Homo sapiens: one gene and its partner. The protein of the gene in region 1 purifies or fractionates together with the protein of each later gene. This does not show direct contact. Each region holds a gene or a part of one and is shown on either strand. Other genes may lie near its edges. The genes, in order: LIMK1 and MKI67.

The links.
Region 2: the proteins of LIMK1 (region 1) and MKI67 purify together in Homo sapiens (affinity purification with mass spectrometry; 2 studies listed by BioGRID and IntAct, with this or other methods). This does not show direct contact.

What each region holds. Positions count from the first base shown.
Region 1 is NC_000007.14:74,089,637-74,105,325, reverse strand, and holds part of LIMK1 (LIM domain kinase 1), read right to left. Parts: intron 12,110-15,689; exon of another isoform or gene 12,077-12,109; coding exon of another isoform or gene 12,027-12,076; intron 8,705-12,026; coding exon 8,566-8,704; intron 8,247-8,565; coding exon 8,137-8,246; intron 6,295-8,136; coding exon 6,088-6,294; intron 1-6,087. UniProt on the Homo sapiens protein: Serine/threonine-protein kinase that plays an essential role in the regulation of actin filament dynamics. Acts downstream of several Rho family GTPase signal transduction pathways.
Region 2 is NC_000010.11:128,093,748-128,109,436, reverse strand, and holds the end of MKI67 (proliferation marker protein Ki-67), read left to right. Parts: intron 1-13; coding exon 14-6,858; intron 6,859-7,735; coding exon 7,736-8,179; intron 8,180-10,181; coding exon 10,182-10,247; 3' UTR 10,248-12,778; downstream 12,779-15,689. UniProt on the Homo sapiens protein: Protein that associates with the surface of mitotic chromosomes and acts both as a chromosome repellent during early mitosis and chromosome attractant during late mitosis.

The DNA of each region.
Region 1 (15,689 bases):
ATTTCCCAGGCTGGTCTCGAACTCCTGAGCTCATGCAATCCGCCCGCCTTAGCCTCCCAAAGGGCTAGGACTGGCCGGGCGCAGTGGCTCACACCTGTAATCCCAACAGTTGGGGAGGCCAAGGTGGATGGATTACTTGAAGTCAGGAGTTTGAGACCAGCCTGGCCAACATGGTGAAACGCCGTCTCTACTGAAAATACAAAAATTAGCCGAGCGTGGCAGTGGGCGCCTGTAGTCCTAGCTACTTGGGAGGCTGAGGCAGGAATTGCTTGAACCTGGGAGGTGGAGGTTGCAGTGAGTCAAGATTCTGCCACTGCACTCCAGCCTGGGTGGACAGAGCGAGACTCCGTCGCAAAAACAAAGTGCTAGGATTACAGACATGAGTCATTGCACCTGGCCTGCCTGGTATGCTTGGGGCAGATGAGTGCCTTGGGTCCCAAAAAGGTCCCGGATTAGTGGCTTCATATCTGACTCCCAAACTCGCCCTGCAAGAGGAGGCCAAGCTCTATTGCTCCTGCATTGGCAGGAGGGAGCTGGCAGCTTGCCCTGAGCCACAATTGCAGGGTGAAGACGGGAAAGAGACCCTCGATCAGTTGCCTATAAGCTAACTCACAAAAAGACCAATTTGCCAAATTTACTTATTTCTTTTAACTCTTCGGTGTTAGGGACCTGGTTTTCTTTTCTTTTCTTTTTTTTTTTTGAGACAGAGTTTTGCTCTTGTTGCCCAGGCTGGAGTGCAATGGAGTGATCTCGGCTCATTGCAACTTCCGCCTCCCAGGTTCAAGTGATTCTCTTGCCTCAGGCTCCTGAGTAGCTGGGATTACAGGCATGTGCCACCATGCCTGGCTAATTTTGTATTTTTAGTACAGATGGGGTTTCTCTATGTTGGTCAGGCTGGTCTTGAACTCCTGACCTCAGGTAATCCACCCACCTTGGCCTCCCAAAGTGCTGGGATTATAGGCGTGAGCTGGTTTTCATTTTGCCTCATAAAAGCTTTTTAGGGAATGCTCACTTTGTCTCTGCCCTAGGTCCTGGAGATGGAAAAGGGGATGGGGGTAAGGCAGAGAGGAGACTGAGAACTTTAAGAAAAACAGGGCCAGGTGTGGTGGCTCATGCCTGGAATCCCAGCACTTTGGGAGGCCAAGGTGGGAGGATTGCTTGAGACTAGGGGTTTGAGACCAGCCTGGGCAGCATAGCAAGACCCCATCTCTATGACATTTTTTACAGAAAATTAGCTGAGCATGGTGGCACACTCCTGTAATCCCAGCTATTTGGGAGGCTGAGGTGGGAAGATCACTTGAGGTCAGGAGTTCGAGACCAGCCTGAGCAAAATAGTGAGACCTCACCATTACAAAAAATAAAAAATTAGCCAGGCATGGTGGTGCTGCCTGTAGTCCCAGCTACTCGAGAGGCTGAGGCAGGAGGATCGCTTGAGCCCATGAGGTCGAGGCTGCAGTGAGCTATGATCATGTCACTGCACTCCAGCCTGGGCAACAGAGTGAGACCCTATCTCAAAAAAACAACCAAGCAAACAAAAAGACTATTCTCGTATGGGGGAGAAGCTCTTCCTTACAGTAACAAATGCAGAAGGAAGAACAGAGTTAGAAATTCAGCATTTGGTAGCCACCCTAGTAATAATCGCTACAGGCAAGAATCATCAATAGATGCTCAAATCATTTGGGGAAGGGTTTTTGGGAACAGGATATTTACAGACTCAAATCTCACAAATGGTTTATTGATGACAAAGGGAAAAAAATCCTTACAGTACAGAAAAAACAAGTAATCAAAGTGAACATCCTCAGCAAAGGGCACACTGACATCATATGTCTCCTGGCAAGATCCACTCGGAAGGACAGAGGATCACTTATGCAGTATCAGGCCAAACCTGCAGAGCCTGTCTCCCTAAGAGGAAACATCAGTCAAACCCAAATGCGAGGGCAGGTACGATGGCTCACGCCTGTAATCCCAGCACTTTGGGAAGCTGAGGCGGGAGGATCACTTGAGCCTAGGAGTCTGAGACCAGCCTGGGCAACACAGTGAGACCCTGTCTCTTTTTAAAAAAAAAAAAAAAAAAAAGGAAAAACATTTTACTTTAATGACTGGCCTGTACACTTCAAAAATGTCAAGATCATGAAGGGCAATGAAAGGCTGAGGAAATGGCCAGACGCAGTGGCTCATGCCTGTAAACCCAGCATTTTGGGAGGCTGAGGTGGGTGGATCATTTGAGGTCAGGAGTTCAAGACCAGCCAGGGCAACATGGTAAAACCCCGTCTCTAATAAAAATACAAAAATTAGGCATGCATAATGGTGCACGCCTGTAATCTCAGCTACTTAGGAGGCTGAGGCAGGAGAATCACTTAAGCCCAAAGGCGGAGGTTGCAATAAGCCAAGATTGCGCCATTGCGCTCCAACCTGGGCAACAAGAGCAAAATTCCGTCTCAAAAAAAAAAAAAAAAAAGATACTGATGACACATGACGATTAAATGCAATGTTGATCATGGACTGGACTGTGGATGAGGGGGAGATTGCTATAAAGGACAGCTCAGTAGTTCAGTATAGAGACAATAGGCAAAATTTGAATATGGTCTGTGTATTAGATAATGGTATCAATGTTACATTTCCAAAATGTGATCACTGAACTATAAGATACAATTGATAATTACATAACAGAATGCCTAGCCAGGCGTGGTGGCCCGTGCCTGTAGTCCCAGCTACTTGGGAGGCAGAGGTGGGAGGATCACTTGAGCCTGGGAGGTTGAGGCTGCAGTGAGCTGTGATCGCATCACTGCACTCCAGCCTCAATGACAGTGATACCCTGTCTCCAAAAAAAAAAAAAAAAAAGAGAAGGTCCTTCTTTTGAGAATATCTAGCATAATTGTGGGGGAGTCAATGATCCCTGCAACTTACTCCCAAACGATCAATAAATAACAACATGTACATGTATGTACAAATATAAACAAGTCACTAAACATGTATATGTATCTGTATCCATATATGTATATATAGAGAGACACACATATAACTCCCAAATATGGCAGTTACGAATTGGTGAACCTTGGTGAAGGGTGTGTATGTATTCAATGGACTTATTATTTTAGCAAATTTTCTATAAATCTGCAAAATGCGAAGATGAAAAGTTGAAAAAAACCAAAGAAAATATTTTCATTGATACAGGCTTTGCATGCATATAACCTTAAAAATAAGCCAGGCATAGTGGCTCACGCTTGTAATCCTAGCACTTTGGGAAGCCAATGTGGGAGGATTGCTTGAGCCCAGGAGTTCAAGACTAGCCTGGGCGACACAGCAAGACTCAGTCTCTACAAAAAATTAAAAAATTAGCTGGGTGTGGTGGTGTGTGCCTGTAGTCTCACTACTCAGGAGGCCGAGGTGAGTGGATTGCTTGAGCACAGGCATCTGAGGCTATAGTGAGCTATGATTGTGCCACTGCACTCCAGCCTGTATGACAGAGCAAGACCCTGTCTCAAAAAAAAATTGTGTGTCTATATATATATATATATATATATGACATACATATGTAAATTCCTTAGAATCTCACATCCTCTCCCTTGGTTTGCTAAAGCAGCAGGTGGCCTGGATAAATTAGACCTTCCTTAAAACGCTGCTATACACAAAATGAAAAGCGGTCAACTAAAACCAGTTTAAAACAAATAAGTAAATCTTTGGCAAGTTGGGCTCTTTCTGGGAAGGGTGTGGCTCTTTGCAGAACTGGGATGTTCCAGATGTTGGCTGGGCGAATGCTTACCCAGTGAGGCAGACAGGGAGGAGACGTCATTAACTGTCTTCTTCATTTTTATTTTAGAGATAGGGTCTCGCTCTGTCGCCCAAGCTGGAATGCATGGTGTCATCATAGCTTGCTGCAGCCTCCACCTCCTGGGCTCAAGCAATCCTCTCACCTCAGCCCTCCGAAGTGGCTGAGATAACAGGCATGAGCCGCTGCACCCAGCTGACTGTCTTCATTTCTAAAATTCTGCCTGGATTTCAGGGACCAGCTGCAGCCTCTGACTCTGTGGGGACCTCCCTTGGCCCTCTGGTAAGAGCCGTTGGTCTGGGAGTTTCCTCATCTCTTTCAAGCAGCTGTCTGCTCATCATGTATGTAAAGCAGCTGCTGGCTTGGCTGATGTCAAGGGATGGAGACACACAGTCAAGCCCAGTATAATTTTCTGTCCCCAGGGCCACCTTCACATCTCAACAGTGCCTATGCAGTGCCAGGCACCTGCCAGGTGTACAAGAAACATTCACTGCGTCAAATGAAAGCTAGCACTTGGTAGGGCCGGGCGTGGTGGCTCATGCCTGTAATCGCAGCACTTTGGGAGGCCGAGACGGGCGGATCACGAGGTCAGGAGATCGAGACCATCCTGCCTAATATGGTGAAACCCTGTCTCTACTAAATATAAAAAAAAAATTAGCCGGGCATGGTGGCAGGTGCCTGTAGTCCCAGCTACTCGGGAGGCTGAGGCAGGAGAATGGCGTGAACCCAGGAGGCGGGGCTTGCAGTGAGCCGAGACCACACCACTGCACTCCAGCCTGGGCGACAGAGCGAGACTCCGTCTCGAAAAAAAAAAAAAGAGAGAGAGAAAGCTAGCACTTGGGCCGGGCACGGTGGCTCACACCTGTAATCCCGGCACTTTGGGAGGCCGAGAAGGGAGGATCACTTGAGCCCAGGAGTTTGAAACGAGCCTGGCCAACATGGTGAAACCCTGTCTTTACTAAAAATACAAAAATTAGCCACATGTGGTCACCTGTAGTCCCAGCTACTCAGGGGGCTGAGGTGCAAGAATTGCTTGAACCTTGTGGGTGGAGGTTGCAGTGAGCTGGTATCACACCACTGCACCCCAGACTGGGCGACAGAGTGAGACTGTCTCAAAAAAAAAGAAGTGACCAATTGCCCAAAAGTAGAAACACTGCATGCTACTTCTCAAGGTGTCAATAAAGGCGCCACAGAAATCTTAGAAAGCTCCAAGGTATCCAACTCCCTCATTGTTCAAACAGACCCCCAAAGCCTAGAGAGAAAGCAGCTGCTCAAAGTCACACAGTAATCTAATCTTTATCAGCCCTGCCCCATTTTTTTGAGACAGGGTTTTGCTCCATTGCCCAGCCTAGAGTGCAGTCGTGCAATTATAGCTCACTGTAGCCACTTCCTGGGCTCAAGAGATCCTTCTGCCTCAGCCTCCCAAGTAGCTGTGACTACAATGTTTCCCAGGCTGGTTTCGAACTCCTGGCCTCAAGTGATCCTCCCATCTCAGCCTCCCAAAGTGTTTCGATTATAAGTGTGAGCAACCATGCCCAGCCTTTATGTGTTCAGTGATTTCACCATGCCTGGCTAATTTTTAATTTTTTTTTTTTTTTTGTAGACATGCAGGTCTCGCTATGTTGCCCAAGCTGGTCTCAAACTTCTGGCCTTAAGTGATCCTCTCACTTTGGCCTCCCAAAGTGCTGAGATTACAGGTGTGAGTTACTGCGCCCAGCTTCTTCACTCATTCTTGACTTGGTTCCTCCTCTTTCTTGTTGGATCAGACATGGACTAAAGAAAATGTCTTTTTATTTTTTGAGTGTGTTTTTTTTATTTTTATTTTTTTGATACAGAGTTACACTCTTGTTGCCCAGCCTGGAGTGCAATGGCAGTCGGGGCTCACTGAAACCTCCACCTCCTGGGTTCAAGTGATTCTCCTGCCTCAGCCTCCCAAGCAGCTGGCACTATAGGCACACACTACCATGCCTGGCTACGTTTGTATTTTTAGTAGAGACGGGGTTTCACCACATTGCCCAGGCTGGTCTCGAACTCCTGACCTCAGGTGATCCACCCACTTCGGCCTCCCGAAGTGCTGAGATTACAGGTGTGGGCCACCATGCCCGGTTGAAAATGTCTTTTTATTGTATCTGGCATTTGTAATGGTATTCAGAGGAATGACTGGGCCAGAAATCTGGCAAACCAGGTTGTCAGAACTGGGCCCCATCTGTACCCAAACACTCGCCCATTCATTTTCAGGGCCCCCAGTGCCAGACTCTGCCACCCACATCAACAGCCATAGCCACACCGACGGCAGCCTCGGCAGGCCGGCCACTCACCCCTGGACGCGGACGGTGTGTGAGTGCTCGGTGCCACAGCCCGGTGGGCCGTGCGGGGGGTCAATGGAGACTGAAAGTCCACGCTTGCCATGAGATGAGGCTGGGATGGACACCAGGGTGACGGTGTGGGGCAGGTGGGAGCCAGGGGAGTCAGGCAGGATCTGCTCGATGACGGGGGTCACCACAGTCTGGTAGTAGCAGTGCCCGCTGCAAGAGCCGCCGGGGTGGGAAGAAAAGAGTGTCAAGGGCGTCATCAATTTCAGCATCTCTGCAGCCCCCAGCCCCAGGCTCTTCCCCCAATCCCTTCCTTTTTTTTTTTTTTTTTTGAGATGGAGTCTCACTCTGTTGATTACAACACTGCACCCCAGCCTGGGTGACAAAGCAAGACTCTGTCTCAAAAGAAAAGGAAAGCTAGCAATTGTCCAAAAGTGCAGTGGTGTGATCTTGGCTCACTGTAACCTCCGCCTCCTGGGTTCAAGCGATTCTCCTGCCTCAGCCTCCTGAGTAGCTGGGATTACGGGCACGCACCACCATGCCTGGCTAATTTCTTATTTTTAGTAGAGACGGTTTCACCATGTTGGCCAGGCTGGCCTCAAACTCCAGACCTCAGGTGATCTGCCTGCCTTGGCCTCCCAAAGTGCTGGGATTATAGGGGTGAGCCACTGCACCTGGCCAGCTTTCTTTTCTTTCACTCTTCCTATGGAACTGGGAGCAGGAACTGTGCGTGCCCAGCCAGCCCTCGTCCCTCTGAGTCATTCGGGTCTGTCTACTCGCTGTGATCCTGTAAGGCGGCCAGGACAAGGCCTGAGGATAAATCCAGTTCAGGAGGAAGTCATTAAAAGCCCATCTGGGATCAAGCCACGTTGTCCTCTAATCCAGCTTGATCAGTGTTGTATAAGAAAGAATCTGTCTGGGTTTTGTCCTGATTCCTGGGAGGGAGACTCTAAGTCCTTGGAATGGGGTATCTTTGTTATTCATGAGCCCCTCAGACTATTCCTGAGTTGATACTAATGAGATGACTCAGCCCCGCAAAGATACATCATGTGATTTGAAGAGGGTTGCAGCTTTCATCCAGCCTGACCTCCAAGAACGGGGGCTAGAGACTAAGCTTGATCATACGGCCAATGACTCAATCAGTCATGACGATGTAATGAAATCCCAATAAAAACTCTGGCTGCTGAAGCTCAGTGAAGCTTCCTGGTTGGTGATCACATTGATGTGCTAGGGGAGGGAGGGGAGATGCTTCTTCATTTGGTCGGACCTGAGCTGTGTCCTTCATAATAAAACTGGGATAAAAATGGAGGATTTCCTGAGTTCTGTGAGTCTGTTAGCAAACGATCAAACTTGGCAGGGTCTTGGGAGTCCCTGAATTTGTAGCCAGTCGGTCAGAAGTGTGAGTGGGTTGGGGACCCCTGAACTTGTGGCTGGTGTCTAAAGAGGGAGCAGTTATGCTGGGGATGGTGTCCTTAACTTGTGGCATCCACCCCACCTCTGGTGGTTTGTGCCAGCACCATGCTGCAGTCATGGCCAGTAAGAAAGCTGACGTCTGAGGTTTTCTGTTTTGAGACAGAGTCTTGCTCTGTTGCCTAGGCTGGAGGGCAGTGGTGCAATCTTGGCTCACTGCAACTTCCACCTCCCAGGTTCAAGAGAGTCTCCTGCCTCAGCCTCCTGAGTAGCTGGGATTACAGGCACCCGCCACCACACCTGGTTAATTTTTGTATTTTTAATAGAGATGGGGTTCCACCATGTTGGCCAGGCTGGTCTTGAACTCCTAGCCTCAAGGGATCCACCCACCTCGGAATCCCAAAGTGCTGGGTTTACAGGCGTGAGCCAGCATGCCTGGCCGTCTGAGGCTTTTTCACACTGACTTCTGTGTGTTATTTCTCACTTGTTTCCATGCCGGGATGGGAAAGGAGATATGAACATTTGCCCCAACAAACCTCACCCCATGGGAAAGGGCAGGAGGCCCGGGTGTGGGAGAGTCAGCACCCTTGCAGATCTGTGACACAGGTGGGCCTCCTAGGCTCAGGGAGGGGCCAAGGCACTCACCAGTACAGCTTGGAGTGCTCCACCAGCGTGTAGGTGTCCCCGTCACCGATAAAGGTCCCACACGTGAGGCAGATGAAACACTCGGGGTGGTACTTCAGCTCCCCAGCCACCTGGTGCGGGGGTGAGGAGGGAACAGCCCAGCTCAGCAGACCCAACAACCCCCACAGATCCTCCCCTAGGCCTCTTCCAAGGGTGTCACCAAAAAAACAACTGCAGGGACCCGGCTGGCCAGCTGCTGAGCTCCTGGACAGAGCTGGCTCCATAGATGGGGGCGCTGAGGGATACAGACAGACAGTCAGGCTCAGAAAGCAGCTCCAAAGACCAGCAAAAAGGAGACCAGGAGAGACAATGATGGGAGAGAGACCTGGAGCATGGGGTCTGCTTGGATACCCCCACCCCAGGTGAGTGTGCAAGGCAGGGGGCGCTCACCATAACCAGTCCCTTGGTGATTTGCTCAGAGCACCCATGGCAGGACTCGCCATAGCGGGCCCAGTAGTCCTTCTTGCAGAAGAGCTGCCCATCCTTCTCATAGTACTGGTGCGACAGGGAGGCACTGCAGTCACAACACCTGCAGGAGAGGGGCCGGGCTGAGACGTCCACTCCCGCCCTCCTCCACCTCACCTGGGCCCCTGCCTCGGCTACAGGCACCTTTGTAAGAATTAGAACAAGTTTTCTTTTTGTTTGTTTTTTGAGACGGAGTCTTGCTCTGTCGCCAGGCTGCAGTGCAGTGGCTCGATCTCGGCTCACTGCAACCTCTGCCTTCCAGGTTCAAGTGATCCTCCTGCCTCAGCCTCCTGAGTAGCTGGGACTACAGGCACACACCACCATGCCCAGCTAATTTTTTGTATTTTTAGTAGAGATGGGGTTTCACCATCTTGGCCAGGATGGTCTTGAGCTCTTGACCTCGTGATCCGCCCACCTCGGCCTCCCAAAGCGGTGGCTCACACCTGTAATCCCAGCACTTTGGGAGGCCGAGGTGGGCAGATCACTTGGGGTCAGGAGTCTGAGACCAGCCTGGCCAACATGGCAAAACCCAGTCTCCACTAAAAATACAAAAACTAGCCAGGCATGGTGGTGGGCACCTGTAATCCCAGCTACTCGGGAGGCTGAGGCAGAAGAATCGCTTGAACCTGGGAGGCAGAGGTTGCAGTGAGCCAAAATTGTGCCACTGCACTCCAGCCTGGCGACAGAGTGAGACTCTGTCTCCAAAAAAAAAAAAAAGAAAAAGAAAAATAGAGGAGAATCCCCAGGTGTGCAGGGTCATCAAAGCCACGGTTCGCCTGTTTCCTCACTAGAGGCTACCAAGGAGGCCTGGTTGGTGGGGCCTTGAAGGGCAGATGGGGAGGAATGCCAGGCTGTAGGTGCCACAACACAGGCCAGGGTTAGACCTACATTCCCGGCTTTTTCCCAGCCAAGCATCCCGGTGGGGTGGGGACCAGCAGCCCTGCCCAGCCAGGATGAACAAATATAGAAATGTCAGTCTGGGATGGGCATGGTGGCTCATGCCTGTAATCTCAGCACTTCAGGAGGCGAAGGTGGGAGGATCACTTGAGGCCAGAGGTTTGAGGCCAGCCTGGGCAACACAGTAAGACCCCATCTCTTAAAAAATTATTAAAAAATTAGCCAGGATACAGTGGGTCCTGTACTCCCAGCTACTAGGGAGGCTGGGGAGGGAGGATCGCTTGAGCCCAGGAGTTGAAGGCTGCAGTGTGCTATGATTACACCACTGCACTCCAGCTGGGTGACACAGCAAGACCCTCTCTCTAAAAAATAAAATAAACCAAATGCGGGTGCCCCAGTGAACCCGCAGGCACACATGTGCCCCCCTGGGTCCTGCTGTGGGGGGGCATGTCTGGGTCAGGGTACAGACCCACACAGAGAACAGGCTAGGGGGTCCGTCCCGCTCTGCCACTGTTTGGGTGCTATGTGTCGGTCACACAGGGACAGAAGAACCAGGCTCCAAAGGGCCACAATCTAGGAGAGAGGCAGGTAGGAAAGACTGGGACCTGGATGAGATGAGGGACCTTAAGGGCTGTTTCCTACCCAGGAAACTCTCCACAGCCTGGGGCCTGCATGGGTATCACTCATGGGCTGTCTGCTAATGCTAATTAACTGTAACTAGGGAACTGGGGTTGAGGAGGGGAGTTCAGCAGTAAGCTGGTGGGACACTGTCCCTTTAAGAGGATCCAGCCACTTCCCCTTTGTCTGGGAGCCTAGGGGAAGGGGTGGGAGTAAAGGGGGAGCAGAAAATGCCAGGGTTTGGAAGCATGTGGGTGAGGGGTGCATCCAGGAAGGGAGGCCTGGTGCATTCCTCCATGGGGGTGGGGAATGCGGAGGCTGGGCCACCGGAGGTGGTGGCGGTGGCAGGGGCGGCAGGAGACGCCACGTCAGGGTCACTGCCCCACTCGGTGCACAGCAGGGGGCCGGCAGTTCACCGGATCACCGCGGGGGTGGGGCGGAGGACGGAAGTTGGTGAGGGGGGTGGTCTACAGGGCACCTCCCGTCCCAGGGCTCTAACCTAATTCGAAAGGGAAAGGAGTGCTGCAGCCGGGAGGCCAGGCCGACTTTGGGTCCTGCCCTCGCAGAAGCCCCCACGCCTGGTGCAGACCAATGACTCGCTTCCTGCCCTTACACCGATCACACATGACCTCGGTCACAGGGGTGCCACATCACAGGAGTGCCCCTCACTCCTGCCTGCAGGAAGCAGGGCCCCCGCATACCTCTGCAGTGGGCGGTGGGTGGGTGGGGGATTAGGAATTGCTGTAACCAAGTGTCCCCATCCCGGGGAGGGAACGCTCTTCCACAACCTGGAAACTGCTACTGGTCCATTCACTCGCTCACGCAGAAACTCACAAACCTTCATCACTGTTGCTCACTTTCAGCAGCTGTGAAAGACCCGGCGGTGATGACTCACCCGAGGGTTTGAGTGCACTTGGCTTCCCTCCGGTCACCACTTCCTTGATGCCTGTTCTACCAGACACTAGGTCTGCCCACCAGTGTCTGCCACTGACCTGCCAGCTCCCCGCGGCCCCAGGCTGGGCATCCACAAAGCTTGGCCCAGGAGAGAGCATAAGTGATTCCTGCCGGCGAGGCCCCCGCTGTGCACCCAGCATCCTCAGAACTGCCCCGAGACCCCGTCTCTGCCTCCATTGCAGACAGGGCACCCAGGCCTGGCCCAGGCTGACTTGGTGGCTCAGTGGCTGGGGCTCGGGGCCTCAGTGAACCTTTGCGGATGGAGAGCACGCCGGAGTTCCTGTCCCTGCCCCTGCCCCGCCCCTCACCCCTCAGGCCTGCATTCTGGCAGGAGCTAGAGGCTGACGGGCCTGGCTCTCTTGAGTGCCCCACACAGAGTGCCTGACTGTCCCTAAGAAGGATGTCAAGGGAGGTGCGCCAGGTACTGAGGCTGTGCAGAGCTGCCCTGGGGACAGCCAGAGAGGAACTCCCTCGGGGGAGAGCCATGCCCTGGCCCCACTCCAGGGTACCCCTCCCTGAGAGCAGGGTAGGACAAAGCCAGGCTGGGGCAGGAGAAGGGGGAGGCACCCGGAGGGCATGAAAGGGGTGCTCTGCAGCCCAGGTGGCTGGCTGGGCTGGGAGACAGCGGTGGCTTCCATAATGACAGGAGTGGAGAATCATCGTTCTACCCAGGGCCACATCCCTGGCCACCAGGTGTGAAGAAACAGCAGGTGGAGGACCGGCCTCATGGGGAGACTGTCCTGGAAGGACCCACAGCTTTGGCAGTGGCCTGCTCCCAGGCTGCAGCCGACAGTAACCAAGGAGTTTCAGTTCTGCCCCAGAGCCTGGACCTAGGTGGGTCGGCTTCCAGCCCCAGGCCTTACACCAGGGGCCCTGCCTGGAGCCCAGGACAAGTAGGGAGGGGGATTCCCACTTACTTAGCCCTCTGGAGGAAGCGGCGTCTTCTTGGGGCTGAAGCCAACAGCATCCTCTGTGGCTACACTGGGGGCTCTGGAGGTCTAAGGGAGGGCAGGGGTGGCCAGACCAGCTGCTTCCCCATCCTCCCTCAGGGGCTCAGGATTGGAGGCTGCAGAGGGTGGGGCCAGCGTGGCTGCAGCGCACAGGAGGAGGCTGCAGCCGCGTGGGTGCCAGGGGACTTGGTCTGAGCCTGCAACAGGAAGTGGCTGAAGCACCCTTTGCCTGGGCTTTGGTGCGGGTGGGGAGCGAGCGATCTAGGCTTGGACCCCAGGCAGGGAGCCTGTGGCCCGTCCCTGGCCCTCAGTCCTGAACACACGCTGTAGGCTCCTCAGCCTCGGCCCTGGCAACGGCACTGAAGGCCTCAGGCTTCTCTGGGGACAGGGACAAGCTCAAAAGCAGCTGCCTCTTCCACTGCTGCCCCCAAGGGAACAGAGGTCGACTTCCTATGGACAGTTTGTCTTCGCCAAAAAGGTCCCCTGAAGAAAGGGAGGTTGCATCCCGCCGCTGCTCCAACCCCACAGGCCAGCAGCATGCTCAGCCCTCCTTGCCCAGGGCCAGCCCACCCAGCTGCCAAGGAGATGCTACCAGGGATGCGGCAGCCCTGGGGGTTGTGCACAGGAGGCTTCCTGGAGGGGACCTCGCAGAGGCAGTATGTGAGCCAAAGGGAAGCCTGGACCAGTCCAAGCCTGGTCATAACCTTCCGGGAGGCAGGGCCTGCAAGGGGCTGGGAGGTCAGAACACAGAAAGGGGCAGGCCCCGGAGTGACAACCCTCAGGGCTAATACCAGAGGTCCCATGGGCCTGCAGCAATTGTCCCACTCTACAAAGAGGGGCAGCATCTGGTCCCGGCTGAGCCCTCCAGCAGCCTGCAGGCCCCCATCACAGCACTTATGACCCTGTCTGTCCTATCAGCGTGGGACTTCCTCAAGAGCAGGGGCCAGGGGACAGGAGCAGCTCTCAGATGCTCAGGTTATGACATTCAAAGATGCACAGCTGCCTGTGCGCAGTGGCTCATGCCTGTAACCCCAGCACTTTGGGAGGCTGAGGTAGACAGATCGCTTGAGGTCAGGAGTTTGAGGCCAGCCTGGCTAACATGGTGAAACCCCGTCTCTATTAAAAACACAAAAATTAGCCAGGTGTGGTGGTGGGCGCCTGTAGTCCCAGCTACCAGGAAGCTGAGGCAGGAGAATCGCTTGAACCCGGGAGGCGGAGGTTGCAGTGAGCTGAGATCACGCCACTGCACTCCAGCCTGGGCAACAAAAGCGAGACTCTGTCTCAAAAAAAAAAAAAAAAAAAAAAAAAAAAAGCTGTACAGCCAACGGCACCTTCCACGGGGCCCACAAGGCTCTATGCACCCCTGGCCACTGACTGCACTCCCGCACGCTGGCTTTGTGGTCCTCAGTTGTGCCAAGCACATTCCCACCCCAAGGCCTTTGCACATGCACCGGCCCTACCCCCGACATCCTCTAAACACTGCTCCCTTCAATTCTGTCCCTTAAACATCACTTCCTGAGAGTGCTGTCCCCCAATACCTGACACTACATTTGTTCACTGAGTGTCTTGCCCACTAGAAGGCAGGGACCCTGTTGGTCTGGGAGGTGTGGGACTAAGCTGTGGTTACACTGTAGGCTCTGAAGCCAGGCTGCCTCGGTTCGAGTCCTGATTCTACTCCTCACGCGCTGTGAGACTTTTGGCAAGTGACTGAACTCTGCACCTCATTTGTAAAATCGCTTTTTAAAAATTTGAGACAGTGTCTCGCTCTGTTGCCCAGGCCAGAGTGCAGTGGCGTGATCACAGCTCACTGCAGCTTCGACATCCTGGGTTCAAATGATCCTCCCATCTCAGCCTCCTGAGTAGCTGGGACTACAGGTACGCACCACCACGCCTGGCTAATTTTTTTGTAGAGATGGAGTCTCACTATGTTGCCTAGGTTGATCTCAAACTCCTGGCCTCAAGCAGTCCTCCTGCCTCAGCCTCCCAAAGTGCTGGGATTACAGGCGTGAGTTACCAGCCTTGGCCTTAAAATCGCTTTAATATTGCCGGGCACGGTGGCTCACGCCTGTAATCCCAGCACTTTGGGAGGCTGAGGTGGGCGGATCACGAGGTCAGGAGATCGAGACCATCCTGGCTCACACAGCGAAACCTCGTCTGTACTAAAAATACAAACAAACAAAAAAAAATTAGCCGGGTGTGGTGGTGGGCGCCTGTAGTCCCAGCTACTTGGGAGGCTGAGGCAGGAGAATGGTGTGAACCCGGGAGGCAGAGCTTGCAGTAAGCCGAGATTGCGCCACCGCACTCCAGCCTGGGCGACAGAGCGAGACTCAAAAAAAAAATCGCTTTAATAAATAAATAGCACCCCCTTACTGGGTTGTTGTGAGAGGGGCCTAATGCAGAGTGGGCACGCCATAATTATTTGCAAGTGACTGACTCAGGGACCCTAGGAAGTTCCACTGGGAGGGGCATGCAGAGGGGCCAGGAAAGTGGAAATCACTGGCCACCTCCCCAGTGGGGCTGGAGGCTGCAGACCCCTCATGGCCTTATCACATTGCCCCTGCCCGAACACCTTCAGAGGGGTGAGGGGCCCTGGAACAAAGGTCTCAGTGCATGAAATGAGGTCTGGGCCGGGCCCAATGCCTCAAGCCCAGGGCCCGAGGGAGACTAAGCAGAGTCTAGCACCTTGGGCATCCCACTGAGAGCCAGCCTGGCTGTGGTCAGCCATGCACCCAGGTGAGCAGTGACCCCCTCTGAGCTGCTCTGCTCACTGTCACGCGGTGAGGACCACCAGCTTTGGGGACTGTTGGGAGTATCACACCCACAAGCCACGAGGTAGAAGCCATGGCTCTTACTTCTAGTGGATCTTTCCCCATATTGAGACTTTTTTTTTTCGAGATGGAGTCTTGCTCTGTCACCCAGGCTAGAGTGCAGTGGCGCGATCTTGACTCACTGCAATCACTGCCTCTCGGGTTCAAGCGATTCTTCTGCCTCAGCCTCCTGAGTAGCTGGGATTACAGGCGCCCACCAACAGGCCCGGCTAATTTTTGTATTTTTAGTAGAGATGGGGTTTCACCATGTTGGCCAGACTGGTCTCAAACTCCCGACCTCAGGTGATCTGCCTGCCTTGGCCTCCCAAAGTGCTGGGATTACAGGCGTGAGCCACTGCACCTGGCTTCCTTCTTGAGTTTCACTACACCAGGGACAGCACAAACATGCCTCCTCTTTACTGCCCTGACCTGGGGACTCACCCCTCTCCTGGTGAGTGATTTGGGACAGGCCACTCCAAAGCCAGGTACACCCATCCTGTAACACGGCTTCCCTCCTGTGGCTTCTGTGGCTCTACTCCTGACCCTCTCTCCATCACCCAAGGCTCCATCTCCCCCCTCACCGCAGACACAGGGGTCCCCAAAGTTCTTCCCTTCATTCGTCTTGGCCCTATCACAAATCCCACTCACCATCTCAGGGCCAGCTCCGAGGCGGCCGTTTTTTCTGACTTTCCTACCTCCAACTGGACTCAGGCTCCCATGGCTAGCTCTGGGCAGGACACAGCCACCATGGATAGCCCATGTCCCCTCCAGCTCAACACAGATGAGCATGTCTCCTCCCCAACATGACCCCCAATTCCATCAG
Region 2 (15,689 bases), on another chromosome or scaffold:
GTTTTTATTTCAGGAGGAAATGTGTTCTTCAGTGCACAGAATGCAGCAAAACAGCCATCTGATAAATGCTCTGCAAGCCCTCCCTTAAGACGGCAGTGTATTAGAGAAAATGGAAACGTAGCAAAAACGCCCAGGAACACCTACAAAATGACTTCTCTGGAGACAAAAACTTCAGATACTGAGACAGAGCCTTCAAAAACAGTATCCACTGCAAACAGGTCAGGAAGGTCTACAGAGTTCAGGAATATACAGAAGCTACCTGTGGAAAGTAAGAGTGAAGAAACAAATACAGAAATTGTTGAGTGCATCCTAAAAAGAGGTCAGAAGGCAACACTACTACAACAAAGGAGAGAAGGAGAGATGAAGGAAATAGAAAGACCTTTTGAGACATATAAGGAAAATATTGAATTAAAAGAAAACGATGAAAAGATGAAAGCAATGAAGAGATCAAGAACTTGGGGGCAGAAATGTGCACCAATGTCTGACCTGACAGACCTCAAGAGCTTGCCTGATACAGAACTCATGAAAGACACGGCACGTGGCCAGAATCTCCTCCAAACCCAAGATCATGCCAAGGCACCAAAGAGTGAGAAAGGCAAAATCACTAAAATGCCCTGCCAGTCATTACAACCAGAACCAATAAACACCCCAACACACACAAAACAACAGTTGAAGGCATCCCTGGGGAAAGTAGGTGTGAAAGAAGAGCTCCTAGCAGTCGGCAAGTTCACACGGACGTCAGGGGAGACCACGCACACGCACAGAGAGCCAGCAGGAGATGGCAAGAGCATCAGAACGTTTAAGGAGTCTCCAAAGCAGATCCTGGACCCAGCAGCCCGTGTAACTGGAATGAAGAAGTGGCCAAGAACGCCTAAGGAAGAGGCCCAGTCACTAGAAGACCTGGCTGGCTTCAAAGAGCTCTTCCAGACACCAGGTCCCTCTGAGGAATCAATGACTGATGAGAAAACTACCAAAATAGCCTGCAAATCTCCACCACCAGAATCAGTGGACACTCCAACAAGCACAAAGCAATGGCCTAAGAGAAGTCTCAGGAAAGCAGATGTAGAGGAAGAATTCTTAGCACTCAGGAAACTAACACCATCAGCAGGGAAAGCCATGCTTACGCCCAAACCAGCAGGAGGTGATGAGAAAGACATTAAAGCATTTATGGGAACTCCAGTGCAGAAACTGGACCTGGCAGGAACTTTACCTGGCAGCAAAAGACAGCTACAGACTCCTAAGGAAAAGGCCCAGGCTCTAGAAGACCTGGCTGGCTTTAAAGAGCTCTTCCAGACTCCTGGTCACACCGAGGAATTAGTGGCTGCTGGTAAAACCACTAAAATACCCTGCGACTCTCCACAGTCAGACCCAGTGGACACCCCAACAAGCACAAAGCAACGACCCAAGAGAAGTATCAGGAAAGCAGATGTAGAGGGAGAACTCTTAGCGTGCAGGAATCTAATGCCATCAGCAGGCAAAGCCATGCACACGCCTAAACCATCAGTAGGTGAAGAGAAAGACATCATCATATTTGTGGGAACTCCAGTGCAGAAACTGGACCTGACAGAGAACTTAACCGGCAGCAAGAGACGGCCACAAACTCCTAAGGAAGAGGCCCAGGCTCTGGAAGACCTGACTGGCTTTAAAGAGCTCTTCCAGACCCCTGGTCATACTGAAGAAGCAGTGGCTGCTGGCAAAACTACTAAAATGCCCTGCGAATCTTCTCCACCAGAATCAGCAGACACCCCAACAAGCACAAGAAGGCAGCCCAAGACACCTTTGGAGAAAAGGGACGTACAGAAGGAGCTCTCAGCCCTGAAGAAGCTCACACAGACATCAGGGGAAACCACACACACAGATAAAGTACCAGGAGGTGAGGATAAAAGCATCAACGCGTTTAGGGAAACTGCAAAACAGAAACTGGACCCAGCAGCAAGTGTAACTGGTAGCAAGAGGCACCCAAAAACTAAGGAAAAGGCCCAACCCCTAGAAGACCTGGCTGGCTTGAAAGAGCTCTTCCAGACACCAGTATGCACTGACAAGCCCACGACTCACGAGAAAACTACCAAAATAGCCTGCAGATCACAACCAGACCCAGTGGACACACCAACAAGCTCCAAGCCACAGTCCAAGAGAAGTCTCAGGAAAGTGGACGTAGAAGAAGAATTCTTCGCACTCAGGAAACGAACACCATCAGCAGGCAAAGCCATGCACACACCCAAACCAGCAGTAAGTGGTGAGAAAAACATCTACGCATTTATGGGAACTCCAGTGCAGAAACTGGACCTGACAGAGAACTTAACTGGCAGCAAGAGACGGCTACAAACTCCTAAGGAAAAGGCCCAGGCTCTAGAAGACCTGGCTGGCTTTAAAGAGCTCTTCCAGACACGAGGTCACACTGAGGAATCAATGACTAACGATAAAACTGCCAAAGTAGCCTGCAAATCTTCACAACCAGACCCAGACAAAAACCCAGCAAGCTCCAAGCGACGGCTCAAGACATCCCTGGGGAAAGTGGGCGTGAAAGAAGAGCTCCTAGCAGTTGGCAAGCTCACACAGACATCAGGAGAGACTACACACACACACACAGAGCCAACAGGAGATGGTAAGAGCATGAAAGCATTTATGGAGTCTCCAAAGCAGATCTTAGACTCAGCAGCAAGTCTAACTGGCAGCAAGAGGCAGCTGAGAACTCCTAAGGGAAAGTCTGAAGTCCCTGAAGACCTGGCCGGCTTCATCGAGCTCTTCCAGACACCAAGTCACACTAAGGAATCAATGACTAACGAAAAAACTACCAAAGTATCCTACAGAGCTTCACAGCCAGACCTAGTGGACACCCCAACAAGCTCCAAGCCACAGCCCAAGAGAAGTCTCAGGAAAGCAGACACTGAAGAAGAATTTTTAGCATTTAGGAAACAAACGCCATCAGCAGGCAAAGCCATGCACACACCCAAACCAGCAGTAGGTGAAGAGAAAGACATCAACACGTTTTTGGGAACTCCAGTGCAGAAACTGGACCAGCCAGGAAATTTACCTGGCAGCAATAGACGGCTACAAACTCGTAAGGAAAAGGCCCAGGCTCTAGAAGAACTGACTGGCTTCAGAGAGCTTTTCCAGACACCATGCACTGATAACCCCACGACTGATGAGAAAACTACCAAAAAAATACTCTGCAAATCTCCGCAATCAGACCCAGCGGACACCCCAACAAACACAAAGCAACGGCCCAAGAGAAGCCTCAAGAAAGCAGACGTAGAGGAAGAATTTTTAGCATTCAGGAAACTAACACCATCAGCAGGCAAAGCCATGCACACGCCTAAAGCAGCAGTAGGTGAAGAGAAAGACATCAACACATTTGTGGGGACTCCAGTGGAGAAACTGGACCTGCTAGGAAATTTACCTGGCAGCAAGAGACGGCCACAAACTCCTAAAGAAAAGGCCAAGGCTCTAGAAGATCTGGCTGGCTTCAAAGAGCTCTTCCAGACACCAGGTCACACTGAGGAATCAATGACCGATGACAAAATCACAGAAGTATCCTGCAAATCTCCACAACCAGACCCAGTCAAAACCCCAACAAGCTCCAAGCAACGACTCAAGATATCCTTGGGGAAAGTAGGTGTGAAAGAAGAGGTCCTACCAGTCGGCAAGCTCACACAGACGTCAGGGAAGACCACACAGACACACAGAGAGACAGCAGGAGATGGAAAGAGCATCAAAGCGTTTAAGGAATCTGCAAAGCAGATGCTGGACCCAGCAAACTATGGAACTGGGATGGAGAGGTGGCCAAGAACACCTAAGGAAGAGGCCCAATCACTAGAAGACCTGGCCGGCTTCAAAGAGCTCTTCCAGACACCAGACCACACTGAGGAATCAACAACTGATGACAAAACTACCAAAATAGCCTGCAAATCTCCACCACCAGAATCAATGGACACTCCAACAAGCACAAGGAGGCGGCCCAAAACACCTTTGGGGAAAAGGGATATAGTGGAAGAGCTCTCAGCCCTGAAGCAGCTCACACAGACCACACACACAGACAAAGTACCAGGAGATGAGGATAAAGGCATCAACGTGTTCAGGGAAACTGCAAAACAGAAACTGGACCCAGCAGCAAGTGTAACTGGTAGCAAGAGGCAGCCAAGAACTCCTAAGGGAAAAGCCCAACCCCTAGAAGACTTGGCTGGCTTGAAAGAGCTCTTCCAGACACCAATATGCACTGACAAGCCCACGACTCATGAGAAAACTACCAAAATAGCCTGCAGATCTCCACAACCAGACCCAGTGGGTACCCCAACAATCTTCAAGCCACAGTCCAAGAGAAGTCTCAGGAAAGCAGACGTAGAGGAAGAATCCTTAGCACTCAGGAAACGAACACCATCAGTAGGGAAAGCTATGGACACACCCAAACCAGCAGGAGGTGATGAGAAAGACATGAAAGCATTTATGGGAACTCCAGTGCAGAAATTGGACCTGCCAGGAAATTTACCTGGCAGCAAAAGATGGCCACAAACTCCTAAGGAAAAGGCCCAGGCTCTAGAAGACCTGGCTGGCTTCAAAGAGCTCTTCCAGACACCAGGCACTGACAAGCCCACGACTGATGAGAAAACTACCAAAATAGCCTGCAAATCTCCACAACCAGACCCAGTGGACACCCCAGCAAGCACAAAGCAACGGCCCAAGAGAAACCTCAGGAAAGCAGACGTAGAGGAAGAATTTTTAGCACTCAGGAAACGAACACCATCAGCAGGCAAAGCCATGGACACACCAAAACCAGCAGTAAGTGATGAGAAAAATATCAACACATTTGTGGAAACTCCAGTGCAGAAACTGGACCTGCTAGGAAATTTACCTGGCAGCAAGAGACAGCCACAGACTCCTAAGGAAAAGGCTGAGGCTCTAGAGGACCTGGTTGGCTTCAAAGAACTCTTCCAGACACCAGGTCACACTGAGGAATCAATGACTGATGACAAAATCACAGAAGTATCCTGTAAATCTCCACAGCCAGAGTCATTCAAAACCTCAAGAAGCTCCAAGCAAAGGCTCAAGATACCCCTGGTGAAAGTGGACATGAAAGAAGAGCCCCTAGCAGTCAGCAAGCTCACACGGACATCAGGGGAGACTACGCAAACACACACAGAGCCAACAGGAGATAGTAAGAGCATCAAAGCGTTTAAGGAGTCTCCAAAGCAGATCCTGGACCCAGCAGCAAGTGTAACTGGTAGCAGGAGGCAGCTGAGAACTCGTAAGGAAAAGGCCCGTGCTCTAGAAGACCTGGTTGACTTCAAAGAGCTCTTCTCAGCACCAGGTCACACTGAAGAGTCAATGACTATTGACAAAAACACAAAAATTCCCTGCAAATCTCCCCCACCAGAACTAACAGACACTGCCACGAGCACAAAGAGATGCCCCAAGACACGTCCCAGGAAAGAAGTAAAAGAGGAGCTCTCAGCAGTTGAGAGGCTCACGCAAACATCAGGGCAAAGCACACACACACACAAAGAACCAGCAAGCGGTGATGAGGGCATCAAAGTATTGAAGCAACGTGCAAAGAAGAAACCAAACCCAGTAGAAGAGGAACCCAGCAGGAGAAGGCCAAGAGCACCTAAGGAAAAGGCCCAACCCCTGGAAGACCTGGCCGGCTTCACAGAGCTCTCTGAAACATCAGGTCACACTCAGGAATCACTGACTGCTGGCAAAGCCACTAAAATACCCTGCGAATCTCCCCCACTAGAAGTGGTAGACACCACAGCAAGCACAAAGAGGCATCTCAGGACACGTGTGCAGAAGGTACAAGTAAAAGAAGAGCCTTCAGCAGTCAAGTTCACACAAACATCAGGGGAAACCACGGATGCAGACAAAGAACCAGCAGGTGAAGATAAAGGCATCAAAGCATTGAAGGAATCTGCAAAACAGACACCGGCTCCAGCAGCAAGTGTAACTGGCAGCAGGAGACGGCCAAGAGCACCCAGGGAAAGTGCCCAAGCCATAGAAGACCTAGCTGGCTTCAAAGACCCAGCAGCAGGTCACACTGAAGAATCAATGACTGATGACAAAACCACTAAAATACCCTGCAAATCATCACCAGAACTAGAAGACACCGCAACAAGCTCAAAGAGACGGCCCAGGACACGTGCCCAGAAAGTAGAAGTGAAGGAGGAGCTGTTAGCAGTTGGCAAGCTCACACAAACCTCAGGGGAGACCACGCACACCGACAAAGAGCCGGTAGGTGAGGGCAAAGGCACGAAAGCATTTAAGCAACCTGCAAAGCGGAAGCTGGACGCAGAAGATGTAATTGGCAGCAGGAGACAGCCAAGAGCACCTAAGGAAAAGGCCCAACCCCTGGAAGATCTGGCCAGCTTCCAAGAGCTCTCTCAAACACCAGGCCACACTGAGGAACTGGCAAATGGTGCTGCTGATAGCTTTACAAGCGCTCCAAAGCAAACACCTGACAGTGGAAAACCTCTAAAAATATCCAGAAGAGTTCTTCGGGCCCCTAAAGTAGAACCCGTGGGAGACGTGGTAAGCACCAGAGACCCTGTAAAATCACAAAGCAAAAGCAACACTTCCCTGCCCCCACTGCCCTTCAAGAGGGGAGGTGGCAAAGATGGAAGCGTCACGGGAACCAAGAGGCTGCGCTGCATGCCAGCACCAGAGGAAATTGTGGAGGAGCTGCCAGCCAGCAAGAAGCAGAGGGTTGCTCCCAGGGCAAGAGGCAAATCATCCGAACCCGTGGTCATCATGAAGAGAAGTTTGAGGACTTCTGCAAAAAGAATTGAACCTGCGGAAGAGCTGAACAGCAACGACATGAAAACCAACAAAGAGGAACACAAATTACAAGACTCGGTCCCTGAAAATAAGGTGAGAGGAAGTATTACAGCATCACTCAATATCGTCTTGGATAGTTGTGAATTTCTGTGTTATACTTTGCATGTAACCTGACGTTATAAGTGGTTATCCTTTCCCCAGAGGGTTTCCTTTAACACTGAATAACTGCAGGCCATGGTAAAGAATCTTCTTGGGACCTATAGAGGGAATAGACTAATATGGGAAAAGAACTAGTCAAACATGATTAATGCAAACTTAGAAGAGTTTCTCAAAAGCCAAATGAGTAATGTTCATCTTCAAATGTTTAAAAAATTGATCAGAGGATAGGTGGGTGGTTCAGTTCTATGTTCTGGATACTGTCACCAAGACCAGGACTGGGTTAAAAATCCTATCTATGTCACTATTTTAACTATCAGAACAATATCAATAAGGAATGTGTATTCTTGAGAAGGGGAAACTGTCTGGACTGTTAGATAGAGAGGCTCCCACTGCATGCAGAGAAGTTTGGGGAAACTCCAGAAATGGCAATTTCCTGTTCTGCCTTAGCAGTGATGGTTAAAGGAATAGGAATTCATTTACTCCCTGTAAATGAATGAATAACGGACCTTCTTTCTATAATGTAAACTGTAAAAATTAGATTTGATATATATCTTATTAGGCATTGTTATTGAAATTTATCCTGAATTCCTTATTTATAATTTGTCAGCAGAGACAGTCATTTCTCCATAGGAGCAAAGTACCAAGGCATTACCTTGACTATCCTAGATGACAAGTCTCTTAGACAATTCATCAGTGTGTGATTTTCAAATGATTTCTCCTTTTAGGTTACTGTTGATTGTGCTCCCTGTTGAATTTTGAAGTTTGTTTTACTAATTATTGGAATTTTGTGGATGTCTTCTCATTTCTTTAGGGAATATCCCTGCGCTCCAGACGCCAAAATAAGACTGAGGCAGAACAGCAAATAACTGAGGTCTTTGTATTAGCAGAAAGAATAGAAATAAACAGAAATGAAAAGAAGCCCATGAAGACCTCCCCAGAGATGGACATTCAGAATCCAGATGATGGAGCCCGGAAACCCATACCTAGAGACAAAGTCACTGAGAACAAAAGGTGCTTGAGGTCTGCTAGACAGAATGAGAGCTCCCAGCCTAAGGTGGCAGAGGAGAGCGGAGGGCAGAAGAGTGCGAAGGTTCTCATGCAGAATCAGAAAGGGAAAGGAGAAGCAGGAAATTCAGACTCCATGTGCCTGAGATCAAGAAAGACAAAAAGCCAGCCTGCAGCAAGCACTTTGGAGAGCAAATCTGTGCAGAGAGTAACGCGGAGTGTCAAGAGGTGTGCAGAAAATCCAAAGAAGGTAAGCCATTTACTGTTTCCCTGTTTTAAAAGACACAGAATGTTTTGATGTATTTTTTGCCCAAGGTTGCAAAGGCAAACAAAAAGCATTATCTTCAACAGCACTCTGCCAGCTCCCAGTTACATTAATGGAAGGAGCATTATGCTAAGACATAAATTTGGTCATTTTAGTTATATTTTGTTGTGTCTACTTTGGGAATTTCACTTCAAATAGCAAATTCACGTTATGAAGACTTTCTTCAGAAAGAAAAGGAATTTGTCTAGTGGCTAATTTCTGACTGCTTATGATGTACCTCATGATACAATTGTAGGTAGATGTCTTCAGCCTTTCTGTAGTTCAAAATCACCTCTTGAAACAGGAAAATTCTTTTTCCAAAAAAAACTATTGAAACAGAAAAATTTCCAAGGCATTCTTTGGAAAGGCAGAAGGAACAGAAGTTGGGATGTCCCTGAGACACATGCTCACTATGTGAGAGTTCCTGGTCAGTGGGGGATGCGTCTGCCCTCCAACCCTCCTCCAGCCAGAGACTATCTAAGCTAATGAACTTTAAGTGCTACTGAAATCACATCAAGTTGAGCCACTCATAATTACAAGCATGTGGACAAATCCATAAGAATGATTAGATTCCATTAGTGTTCTTCTGGGGAATACTTGGTTTAGCTAAAATAAAAATAGGTTGAATTGCTCCCTTTTTGTGAGCAATTCACAAAAATATAATATAAATTTAATTCTTAGCACACACAAAATTTGGACCTAAAACTACCATATTCTGAGTTCAGCAAACGAAACTCATGTAGCAATAACCTCTTCAGATACAGAATTCTGGCAAGTACAGCTGTCCAGACAGACCCTCTTCGGCACAAACTAGGAAGCTTCAACTGCCAAGAAAAGGAAAGATTCCCAGGTGTCCCCAGTACCTGCTGCATAGCCAGGCAGCCAGTGGAGGGGGAGGGCTTGTGTGTCTGGATGGTGGGCAGGAAGTCCTAGTGGGGAGATGCCCATAGACTGTTCCAGAGAGGGAAGAGGAGAGGCTCAAGAAGGGCACTGATGCCCACACAGGTGTCCTAAGTCAGAGACTGTACTTCTGGGGCAGGCTGGAAGCAGAAGACACCCGACAGTGCCAGACAAGGTCCTAGAAACCACAGGCACACCAGGGACGCAACAGCTGACGTGGGTCAGCACGTTCACCCGTCGAGTCTTACAATAAAACGCAGGCTCCAGGCGCTTACCGAATTCACAGTCTGGAAGGTGCTGCTTCCTCAGAATGAAACCAAAGAAGGGTGAAAGCGAATCTTTTAACTAGGATGATTCCTAAACACAGAGCAACCAGGCCCAAGGCTGAGCCAGGCCTGGTGTGTTCTGCCGGGGGCGTTCCAGCCTCTTCTCACACACAAGCACCCAGGAGACGCCCAACACACACATGCTCCTCTTTGCCGAGCTCTTCGGTGGGTGTCGGTAGTCCTAGAAAATGCATATATAAGATAGATTTTTTCCAGTAAGAAGCTTGTAGCCATGCTTTTCACCATGGTTCCTCTCCCTTAGCCAAGGGGTGAGAACTACTGCAAGAGTAAAGGCCAAGGCAGGTCTCCTGCATGCAAGTTGGGCATGCTTCTGTCTACAGGGGTTCCTTGGTTTAGGAGACCCAAAAGACTTAATCCTGGTTGGATTCACTTTTTCTGAGTGACATTTTTTAGTTTGTGAAAATGTGTGCATCGATGAAGAAATTTTATTATGAATTAGCTTAAAAATGCATTAGGAACTTCTGTATGAAAAGATCACATTATTTAAGTGTAAAAAAACTGCATAATAAAAGCAGTTCAAGTCAAGAAAAACAATGTTAATGGAATATATTTTAAAACTTATTTCCAACCTCAAAATTAATTTTCTGCAACTAAGGACCTGCATAATACCTAGTAAGCCTTTGGGGTTTTGCAGAGGAGGTCGATTCTAAAAATGGGTGTTTAAATTACTTAAGAGTTCTATTTTTTTTCTTCCCACACAGGCTGAGGACAATGTGTGTGTCAAGAAAATAAGAACCAGAAGTCATAGGGACAGTGAAGATATTTGACAGAAAAATCGAACTGGGAAAAATATAATAAAGTTAGTTTTGTGATAAGTTCTAGTGCAGTTTTTGTCATAAATTACAAGTGAATTCTGTAAGTAAGGCTGTCAGTCTGCTTAAGGGAAGAAAACTTTGGATTTGCTGGGTCTGAATCGGCTTCATAAACTCCACTGGGAGCACTGCTGGGCTCCTGGACTGAGAATAGTTGAACACCGGGGGCTTTGTGAAGGAGTCTGGGCCAAGGTTTGCCCTCAGCTTTGCAGAATGAAGCCTTGAGGTCTGTCACCACCCACAGCCACCCTACAGCAGCCTTAACTGTGACACTTGCCACACTGTGTCGTCGTTTGTTTGCCTATGTCCTCCAGGGCACGGTGGCAGGAACAACTATCCTCGTCTGTCCCAACACTGAGCAGGCACTCGGTAAACACGAATGAATGGATGAGCGCACGGATGAATGGAGCTTACAAGATCTGTCTTTCCAATGGCCGGGGGCATTTGGTCCCCAAATTAAGGCTATTGGACATCTGCACAGGACAGTCCTATTTTTGATGTCCTTTCCTTTCTGAAAATAAAGTTTTGTGCTTTGGAGAATGACTCGTGAGCACATCTTTAGGGACCAAGAGTGACTTTCTGTAAGGAGTGACTCGTGGCTTGCCTTGGTCTCTTGGGAATACTTTTCTAACTAGGGTTGCTCTCACCTGAGACATTCTCCACCCGCGGAATCTCAGGGTCCCAGGCTGTGGGCCATCACGACCTCAAACTGGCTCCTAATCTCCAGCTTTCCTGTCATTGAAAGCTTCGGAAGTTTACTGGCTCTGCTCCCGCCTGTTTTCTTTCTGACTCTATCTGGCAGCCCGATGCCACCCAGTACAGGAAGTGACACCAGTACTCTGTAAAGCATCATCATCCTTGGAGAGACTGAGCACTCAGCACCTTCAGCCACGATTTCAGGATCGCTTCCTTGTGAGCCGCTGCCTCCGAAATCTCCTTTGAAGCCCAGACATCTTTCTCCAGCTTCAGACTTGTAGATATAACTCGTTCATCTTCATTTACTTTCCACTTTGCCCCCTGTCCTCTCTGTGTTCCCCAAATCAGAGAATAGCCCGCCATCCCCCAGGTCACCTGTCTGGATTCCTCCCCATTCACCCACCTTGCCAGGTGCAGGTGAGGATGGTGCACCAGACAGGGTAGCTGTCCCCCAAAATGTGCCCTGTGCGGGCAGTGCCCTGTCTCCACGTTTGTTTCCCCAGTGTCTGGCGGGGAGCCAGGTGACATCATAAATACTTGCTGAATGAATGCAGAAATCAGCGGTACTGACTTGTACTATATTGGCTGCCATGATAGGGTTCTCACAGCGTCATCCATGATCGTAAGGGAGAATGACATTCTGCTTGAGGGAGGGAATAGAAAGGGGCAGGGAGGGGACATCTGAGGGCTTCACAGGGCTGCAAAGGGTACAGGGATTGCACCAGGGCAGAACAGGGGAGGGTGTTCAAGGAAGAGTGGCTCTTAGCAGAGGCACTTTGGAAGGTGTGAGGCATAAATGCTTCCTTCTACGTAGGCCAACCTCAAAACTTTCAGTAGGAATGTTGCTATGATCAAGTTGTTCTAACACTTTAGACTTAGTAGTAATTATGAACCTCACATAGAAAAATTTCATCCAGCCATATGCCTGTGGAGTGGAATATTCTGTTTAGTAGAAAAATCCTTTAGAGTTCAGCTCTAACCAGAAATCTTGCTGAAGTATGTCAGCACCTTTTCTCACCCTGGTAAGTACAGTATTTCAAGAGCACGCTAAGGGTGGTTTTCATTTTACAGGGCTGTTGATGATGGGTTAAAAATGTTCATTTAAGGGCTACCCCCGTGTTTAATAGATGAACACCACTTCTACACAACCCTCCTTGGTACTGGGGGAGGGAGAGATCTGACAAATACTGCCCATTCCCCTAGGCTGACTGGATTTGAGAACAAATACCCACCCATTTCCACCATGGTATGGTAACTTCTCTGAGCTTCAGTTTCCAAGTGAATTTCCATGTAATAGGACATTCCCATTAAATACAAGCTGTTTTTACTTTTTCGCCTCCCAGGGCCTGTGGGATCTGGTCCCCCAGCCTCTCTTGGGCTTTCTTACACTAACTCTGTACCTACCATCTCCTGCCTCCCTTAGGCAGGCACCTCCAACCACCACACACTCCCTGCTGTTTTCCCTGCCTGGAACTTTCCCTCCTGCCCCACCAAGATCATTTCATCCAGTCCTGAGCTCAGCTTAAGGGAGGCTTCTTGCCTGTGGGTTCCCTCACCCCCATGCCTGTCCTCCAGGCTGGGGCAGGTTCTTAGTTTGCCTGGAATTGTTCTGTACCTCTTTGTAGCACGTAGTGTTGTGGAAACTAAGCCACTAATTGAGTTTCTGGCTCCCCTCCTGGGGTTGTAAGTTTTGTTCATTCATGAGGGCCGACTGCATTTCCTGGTTACTCTATCCCAGTGACCAGCCACAGGAGATGTCCAATAAAGTATGTGATGAAATGGTCTTAAAACCCATGGTATTTTTATTATAGGGAGAGTGGGGAAAGAAACTAAGTGTGGGTGGGGCAGACAGGCCAGTGTAAGAGAGACTGGTTCATTACGTTCCATTTTCATTTCTACAAGGACTTGGCTGGATGGTCATTTTCTCTCTTGGCCAATAAGTCATCGCAGCTGCTTTTAGTCCTGCAGGAATGGCCTGCTGTATCTCGAGAACTACCTGCAACCGCAGCTGTGCCTGCTTTGTTGCAACAGAGGTGCTGAGTTGAGGGATGGGGATTTGACCCAGGGCTGCCCCAAGTCAGCAGATGAAAATACATGCCCTGACTTTCCTCTGGCAACCCTGATTTGACATGGATCCCGGGAGTGAATTTGCTGGCAAGTTCCAGGGGCAGTAGCCTGCGGTAGGTCAGTTAGTCCTGAAGAAGAGGCCTTTCTGTCGGAGAGAAAAGTTTGCAGGTGGGTGCATCTACCATCTTGAGAGGCTGAGGAGGGAGGGAGAGCCGTGCTCGGTGGTCAGTCTGGTGAAGGAAGTGGGTTCAGTCTGCAGCCCACATCCTGGGCTGTCATCAAGAATTAACATGGCAAACGGCGACTCCATAAAGTAAACTGTAGCTACTTAACTAAATGATTTCGTGTGGCTGAGATCCTACTGTTTGCTGGGTTTCCTGGAAAAGTCCTCTAGATGAACTGCAGGAATCTCCTGGCACTCTGGTTACAGCTGGAGAAACTGATTTCTGTGCTGTCCAGGTGCTCCCAGACCCCCAAGGCATCTCCAGGACACAGTCACCAAACCCCCATCCTGGTATTACTGGCATTGAGTGCCACGTAGGCACACAGCACTCCATAATTTGGAAATGTGGATTTCATTGCTATTGCTCTTCATGAGGGAACAAATAATACCCATGATGTATTGGCAGGAAGCCACGCCCCCCCTCCCCCGCTGCCACCCCCACAGCGCGCACAGTGATTTCAGGAAGGAGGTTTGATTGGTTTGTTGTGTGTTGCCCTGCAAGGGCCCCAATCAGCTTCCTGCTCATCAGCCCCATCTCAGGCAAGTCCCACATCTGTGATGTCAAGCCCTGAGCCGGGTAATTGGACTTGGATACCTGCTTGACTCATCTTTCCAGTGAGGTTCCTAAGGAGCATCCCCAACCCCACCTCCCAGGGGGAGCTCTCGATGTCACCTGAAGAACAAACAAACAAAAACTGTGTTGATGGTACAGTCCCAGGGCTCCGTGACTGGACAGGCTCCCTGCGTGATACACCTGTGTATGTCACTACAGAAATACAGCTGGTGCAGGCCTGTCCGCCTCTCTCACAGGTCAGAGTGTTCTAAAATCCATCCTGGCCCTTGTTGTCTGTCTGCTTGGGGTTAGGGCAGGTGCTCCTTTATCATTTGTAAAGTTTATGTGATGTCTGGTATGTGTTCCACACCCTTGCAGAGTGTAAATTCCTAGAGAGAGTTCAGACTTCGGAGTCAAATGCACAGGTGCAAATTCCAGCTTGTCTAATTTGCTGCTGTGTGAACGTGGACAGTCTTTCAACTTTGCTAGTTTCCCATCTGTAAAATGAGGCTGTTCAGTACCTGAGCACATAGCATTGTTGAGAAGATTAAATGAGACAATATGTGTAAAACACTTAGCATTTTACCCAGAGCTTGGTAAGCATCAATACATGCTAATTATCATCATCATCAGAAGATGAATATATTTATTAGATGCCTAAAACTCCAAGATATTTCCCTTGGCTCATAAATTCTTTATCACTAGGGATTTCTCTATGGAAGTGAAGGAAGAATCTGGAACGTAACAGGCCTGAATAACCAGGGGCAGTGGCTCACACCTGTAATCCCAGCACATTGGGAGGCCAAGGCTGGAGGATCGCTTGAGGCCAGGAGTTCAAGATCAGCCTGGGCAACATAGCGAGACCCCATCTCTACAAAAAAAAAAAAAAAAGAAAAAAGAAAAGAAAAAATTAGCGGGCATTGTGGCACATACCTGTAGTCCCAGCTACTTGGGAGGCTGATGTGGGAGGACTGCTTGAGCTCAGGAGTTCAAGGCTGCAGTGAGCTATGATTGTATCACTGCACTCCAGCTTGGTCAACAGAGCAAGACCCTGTCTCAAAAAAGAAAAATAAAAATCCTGAATAATATGTCTATGTCTTCATCGAGCCCACGTATTGAAAACTACCCAAACCACCAACAATGCAAAGAAACATTATTTAACTAAGAGTCGAGTAACCAAATTTCAGGGTTATCCAAACTGAATATGGCCTCTGCAGGAGAAAAGAATATGTGTGATGTGGCAGCCACAATCTGATACCATATTAACACTGTCTTTTATTTTTTTTTTTTTGAGACGGTCTCACTCTGTTGCACAGGTTGGAGTGTAGTGGCACAATCTTGGCTCACTGCAACCTCTGCCTTCAAGGTTCAAGAGATTCTCCTGCCTCAGCCTCTGAGGAGCTGGGATTACAGGCATGCACCACACATACCTGGCTAATATTTGTAATTTTTTTTTTAGGAGAGACAGGGTTTCACCATGTTGGCCAGGCTGGTCTCAAACTCCAGACCTCAGGTGATCCAGCCACCTTGGCCTCCCAAAGTGTTGAGATTACAGGCGTGAGCCACCATGCCCAGTCAACAGTGTCTTTAAATGACATCAGATCGCAGAACTTTGCTGAGCTTGGCCCAGACACAGGTCTGGCTAAAACAGGTGGTGCTGGGACCAGGCATGGCCAGGACATAGGGAAGCACATCCCTGCATAGAAAAGGTTCTGTGGATTTTAATCCAGGTCAGCAATTAGCAAACTTTTTCTGTCAAGGACCAGGCAGTAAATATGGCGGCTTCGTGGGCCATACTGTCTGTTATGCTGACTCACCTCTGCTGTTAAAGAACAGAAGCGGCTGTAGGCAACACGCA